Regions from separate parts of the Homo sapiens genome. Here region 2 is linked to region 1. The links come from fine-mapping of genetic effects on gene expression. A gene starts in region 1. The other region holds a variant in brackets. All regions are shown on one strand. Distances are between the middles of the regions. Region 1 holds the start of CASC18 (cancer susceptibility 18). Region 2 overlaps C12orf75 (chromosome 12 open reading frame 75).

Region 1 (3,027 bases):
GAGTTCTGATTTCTGCTCTTTCTTACATATGCCTTAGGCTGCAAGTTGCCTTCTCCTCTCTTCTTTTTCCTTTTAACGCTGTCCTTAGGGTCGTCATCACCTGATTTTACTGCAGAGACTTGGTGAGGCAGAAAAAGGTGAACCCCGGGCTTTTCCCTGCCTGAGAAGTCCCAACCTGTGAGCTAGATTTATATACAGCAGTGGATTGAGCAGTGCTTCTCAATCCTGGCTGCACTTTAGAATGACCTGAGGCTTGGCCCGCACCCTAGACAAATTAAATCAGAATAACTGGAATGGAGGTCCAGGTATTGAAATTTTTCAAAAGCTCCCAAGTGATTCTGTTTCATAGTGAAGTTGAGAACCACTGGCAAACCATAATATGGATACCTCTAAAAATCTTAGTGTTGAGTGCAAAAGGTGGTAAACGATTTATAGCACGTTACTACTTAAGGATATTAAACTTTAATATACACACAAAACCAAGTTCTGTGTTTTTTGGAGATAATCTAAGGACATATAAGAAATCCCAGGAAGGAAGACAGGAGAGGGAAATGGGAGGAAACAGGAGCGAGAATAGAGAATAAATGGGGAAATATAAAATAAAACAAGACAGCGAGATTACACAGACCTTAAAGACTAAAAAGCGTGGCTCCCAAACATCAAATCACCATAGTTAGTATGAACAGGGCAGTCATGTGTACTAGACACAGTGTAATTGGTTTACACACCTTATGTCTGTTAATCTTCATAACAACTCTGAGGTAGGTGTTACTATTTAGAGTCATTTTATAGAGGAGGAAACTAAGGCTTAACCAAGATCATACAACTAGTAAGTGACAGATTTGGGTATAAGCCCTGTCTACCTGGATGGAGTCCAGGCTCTGTTTGCTCCATTCATCACCTCTTTGAGTCCTCTCGAGCACCTGCTGGAAAGAAAATGTCCTCCTCCCCAAGCCCACGTCTCTGCTAGGCAGCTCAGGAACCACCAGCACATACTTCATCCCAGCCCTTGCCAAAGATGGGAATGAGAATGACCATCCAATGTTCTGTGCCCAATGCAGAAGAAAACCTACACATACAACCTTCCTGACCTGGAAACATCCAAAATCAGCCTCAGTTTCCTAATGAGCCTTTCCCTGCCTGAAAAGTCCCAACCCGTGAGCTAGATTTATATACAGCAGTGGATTGAGCAGTGCTTCCCAATCCTGGCTGAAGACGAGCAATGTTTGTTGGGTTCAAGGAATAGAAAAAAGCCTCGCATGGCTGGAATAGAAGAGGAAGATGGTGGGTGCTGCAGCAGAGAAGGCAGGGGCTCAGAGCTCTTCACTTCCCACCAGACATTCCTTTTCCCTTGGGGATGGACTGAGCATGTGGAAGATTTTCCATGCAACTTCATATCCACTGTTCACAACACCTGCCTCTGAGGACGTGATCTTCCTACCAATCTCAGGACCTTTCAAAATTAATTATAATAAAAATGTATTTATTGAGGCAGGCATAAATATTAGTCTCCATTTTCTTCAGAGAAAACAGAAGCATACAGCGGTAGCTTGAACAAAATTTCCCAACCAGAAAGGGATGAGGGAGGAGAGACCGGAAGTACAAGCTCCTCTTATCTGAGTTGCCGCCGTCTAGAGGTGAGCTGATTTTCTGACAGCCCCTTCTCCTCTCCTCACTGGATATCCAGTTTCCAGGTAGGTCCTTCCAGGTAGGCGCCCCCCTGACCTCAATGCGTGCTCCAGCTCTGGGGTGCATTCACAGGGGTAGGACATAGAAGGTAAACTCTGACCAGCTGCATGTGCAGCTACCTCTGCAGAAAAAATCAAGAGGCGCTGGAAGCCCTTCTCCCTTTGCTTAACAACATCTCCCCTGCTGCCCCACAGCAGTATCTGAAGTTCCCCTGTTGGCTTATGGAAATAAAGGCTTTTGTTAAAATATAAATCTGTAATCTGACGGGATGTGAAAAGATTAAGGGACGGGCTGCCCAAACTTTACTGTGCTTGACACTCAACTTATAAGTGTATTGGAAATGCAGATCTTAGGTTCTTATACCACAGATTCTGATTCAACAGGCACCAAATGGGGCCCAGGTAGCTGCAATTCCAACAAACACTTCAGGTGTTTCTGATGCTCGTGTTCTCTGAATCTCGTTTTGAGAAACACTGTGTGACTATGAACTCTTCAATTAGTTAATGAGACTTGGCCCAGAGGTCAATTTTGTCTATAATGAAGCAGAGAGGAGAAAGACACAGCTGCTCCCCCTCTGACTTGGTCTTTCTCTGTCCCGTTCAAAGCTGTGTTCATAGCTCAGGGCTTTAAGAGAGAGTGTTCAGAGCCCTAACTCAGAAGGACCGCCTGGAGACCTGCCAGGGTTTTGCCTAGACACACGTCACACCTTTACAGGGGTGGCGAAGGCTTGTGCTATCTCAAGACCTCACGCAGTACTTCTCAGTTTAATGGGCCCACTCAAGAGGTAAACGTGGAAAAAGAAAAGTTATATGCACACACACCCACACCCACACCCACACCCACACACACACACACACAGAGCAATAAAACAGGAGCAATTTATTCATAAGATTCTAAGTCATGAATTGTCTCTACTTACAAAATATTAGCCTATAAATTATGATTCTGCCAAGCTTCATTTTGAACAAACCCACAATCTCAGAAACATCAGCAGTTCAACTGCAGAGAGAGATGATGAGGTGGCTTGAGAAGAGTGACAGAAATGTCTCTGGATGGGATTCTGGACCTTCTGGGAGGAGGCTTCTTTGAAGGCCACCTGGCGATCGCGTGGTTTCTGATTCTCCCCGTAGTGATCGTGCCTTCCCAGGTACTGAATGGATCTCTTTGAGCTCTTTGCGTGGCCGATGTGTGAACTTTTGGCATGGCCAGTGTGTTCAGTGGGAGTGCTGGGGTTTACAATTGGAGGAAGGATACCGACTCCCTTTATGGCTGGAGCTTCTTGGGATTCCTAAGTGTCACCTTGGTCCACAAGTAGCTGTTAAAAATTAGAAAAAAGTC
Region 2 (2,500 bases), 370 kb before region 1:
GGGATCTTGGGTGGGGGGCGCGCAGCCCCCTCTCCCCGTCCCCATTTTCGGGACAGGAGCAGACCGCCCGTTTCTGGAAAGACCGAAAGCGTGGCAAGTCCCCCGCGCGGGGGCGGTTGCGCCTGGAGCAGTCGAGCCTGCGGGGCGTCTCTGCCGAGGGAGCGCGGGGAGGACTGTCGCGGGCTCCCCTGCAGCCGCCGGGGCTCACCTGCAGCTGGCGGGTCTCAGGGCTCTCCTGGGGGAGAGGATTCCCGGACGTGGTCCCCGGCCGCTCCCCCACCTCCCACACTTGCTCCTCCAGGCCTCTCCCCCATCTCCTCGGAACCAAGGCGCTGCACCTGGAAAAGTGCAGCAGAGCAAGACAGGACTTTTCGGGCAGTGGTGGTGGGGCAGGAAGCGGGGAAGGGTGGGAGTGGGGTTGGGGAGAACTAGAAGCAGAGCTGCAAAAACGCATCTGTGTCTGCCTTGATGCCGAAGACCGGCTGGGCTGCTCTTAGGATTTCTCTGAGAAGCTGCAGCAGTAAGGATGTTTTACATATGTGAGACAGAGCTTTATTATTAACAGTCTGTTAAGATACTTTTCATTAAACACACACACACACACACACACACACACACACAAATAGAAACTTCTTTTTATACCACTTCATGTTGATTGGCAGGCAAGGTCTTCTAGCTTCCCCGGGCCAGCCAGGCTTTGTGTCAAGTGACTTTTGCCAAAACTCACCCTTCTATTTCACCCTGCCTATGTCTCGGGATTTAAGGTACCCTGGATCTGTTTTGAGTAATAACTGCTGACCTATTTCAGTGTCCTTTTGGATAAAGAGCTCCTATCTCCTCCAATTGAAGTCAACCAGATGCCACATCCTAGCCTAACCAGCAAATGCAAACAGCAGTCAGAGGCTGCGGTATTTCCTAGGCGGCTGTGGAGGCCCTGGCAATGACTTTGTAACCTTGGGCCTGTCACATCCCTTAACCCAGACGCCGGTAAAAAATGGAGTTTAAGACTCAATTTGAGTCTTGAATTAAATCCTGTCCTGGTGACAATGCAGAGAGCCACAGGAGAGCGAACTTTTTAGATTCATTTAACAGTGGGGAAGGTTAGTGTAGCACCTTATGCTAATGAGGGCAGACGGGCTTCAAACCTGCCTGTGGCCAGAAAGCTCTGCTTGTATGAAACAATGTCAGGGCCACACCCCGCACTCAAATTGTGTCTCAGTCTACTAGGTACTGTGGCCGTATGCAATCCACTGCATGTGTAGCCTACTTAAAAAAGGTGAAGAAAAGTTATCCACATTAAAAAAAATTGTAGGAAGGATTTGTAGCAGATTTCCCTTAAAATGAGGCTAGTTTCATGCATGTACATTTTGATTTATTAATGAACTGCTTGTCAGTTTTAGGGATGGGGAGGGGGTACCATTGCCAAATGAAAATCAGAATGATGGACCAGGCGCAGTGACTCATGCCTGTGTAATCCCAGCACTTTGGGAGGCTGGGGTGGGTGGATCA[T/C]CTGAGCTCAGGAACTCGAGACCAGTGTAACCAACATGGTGAAACCCAGTCTCTACTAAAAATACAAAATTAGCTGGGCGTGGTGGCGCCTGCTTGTAATCCCAGCTATTTGGGAGGCTGAGGCACGAGAATTGCTTGAACCTGGGAGGCGGAGGTTGCAGTGAGCTGAGATCGCACCATTGCACTCCAACCTGGGCAACAAGAGTGGAACTCCGCTCCATCTAAAAAAAAAAAAAAAGAAAAGAAAAGAAAATAGAAAGATGGTAAGGTATGATGAGCTAGCTCTAAAATGTTAATGTAAAAATCAAATTTGGGGGGAAAATATGATTTCTTGGGGAAATATGATTATCTTTATGAATATTTGATTGACTTTTTCCCTAGGAGCATCTCTCTTATCACCTAAAGGGAAGTCATATTGAAAAAAAAAAAAAAAGCTACCGAAAGAGTAGTTTGAGGAGCAGCCTCACTTTTGTTTGTGGACAGTGCATGTGAGAGCATGCTATTCTCTCCTCCAGCTTGCTGTTTGCCAAAAATTACTTTTTGTTCAGAGGAGAGAAGGATATTGAGTGCAGATTCAAAACATGCAGGAGACAACATGATGAGCAGGGAGTTATTGCATCACCTCTTTGATGGATATGCCCTTGTCTTGGAGAAGCCATTCCCAAACATTTGCCTGCCTGTGAGTCCACCTGGCTGACTTTGGGATTTGGTCATTGTTATTTTGAAATGTTCTGTCAGTTGGTGTTAGGAATTTAGGTTCAGAGAGGAAATACATCAGGATGAGAGATGTAAAGAAAAATAAACCACAATGCAAAGGTACTGAAAATCTCAGCTGTGAGCTTGGGCATCAGCGTCAATTGCACTGTTGACCAAGCTGCACACTAGGAGGACTGAACCCGAGCAATACGAAACGCGTTAAAGAGATATTGTCTTTCTCTTCTAGTTACTTACAGTGCACTACTTCCAATATGTCCCAGGAGTCATAGAATTC

Evidence for each region.
Region 2: its variant is fine-mapped to the expression of CASC18 in tibial artery (GTEx, PIP 0.92).

Annotation. Positions count from the first base shown.
Region 1 is chr12:105,702,563-105,705,589 of GRCh38, forward strand. It overlaps CASC18 (cancer susceptibility 18), which reads left to right and starts at 1,641. Exons shown (of 5, transcript NR_110109.1): 1 at 1,641-1,694. It overlaps LOC105369959 (a long non-coding RNA gene), which reads right to left. Exons shown (of 3, transcript XR_945309.3): 3 at 2,554-3,004.
Region 2 is chr12:105,331,004-105,333,503 of GRCh38, forward strand. All of the region lies in intron 1 of C12orf75 (chromosome 12 open reading frame 75), which reads left to right. Among named protein-coding and RNA genes, the nearest start is that of C12orf75, 1.6 kb to the left of the region's middle. RefSeq lists a silencer at 14-113 and an enhancer at 770-1,313. The variant T/C (reference allele first, on the strand shown) is at 1,510.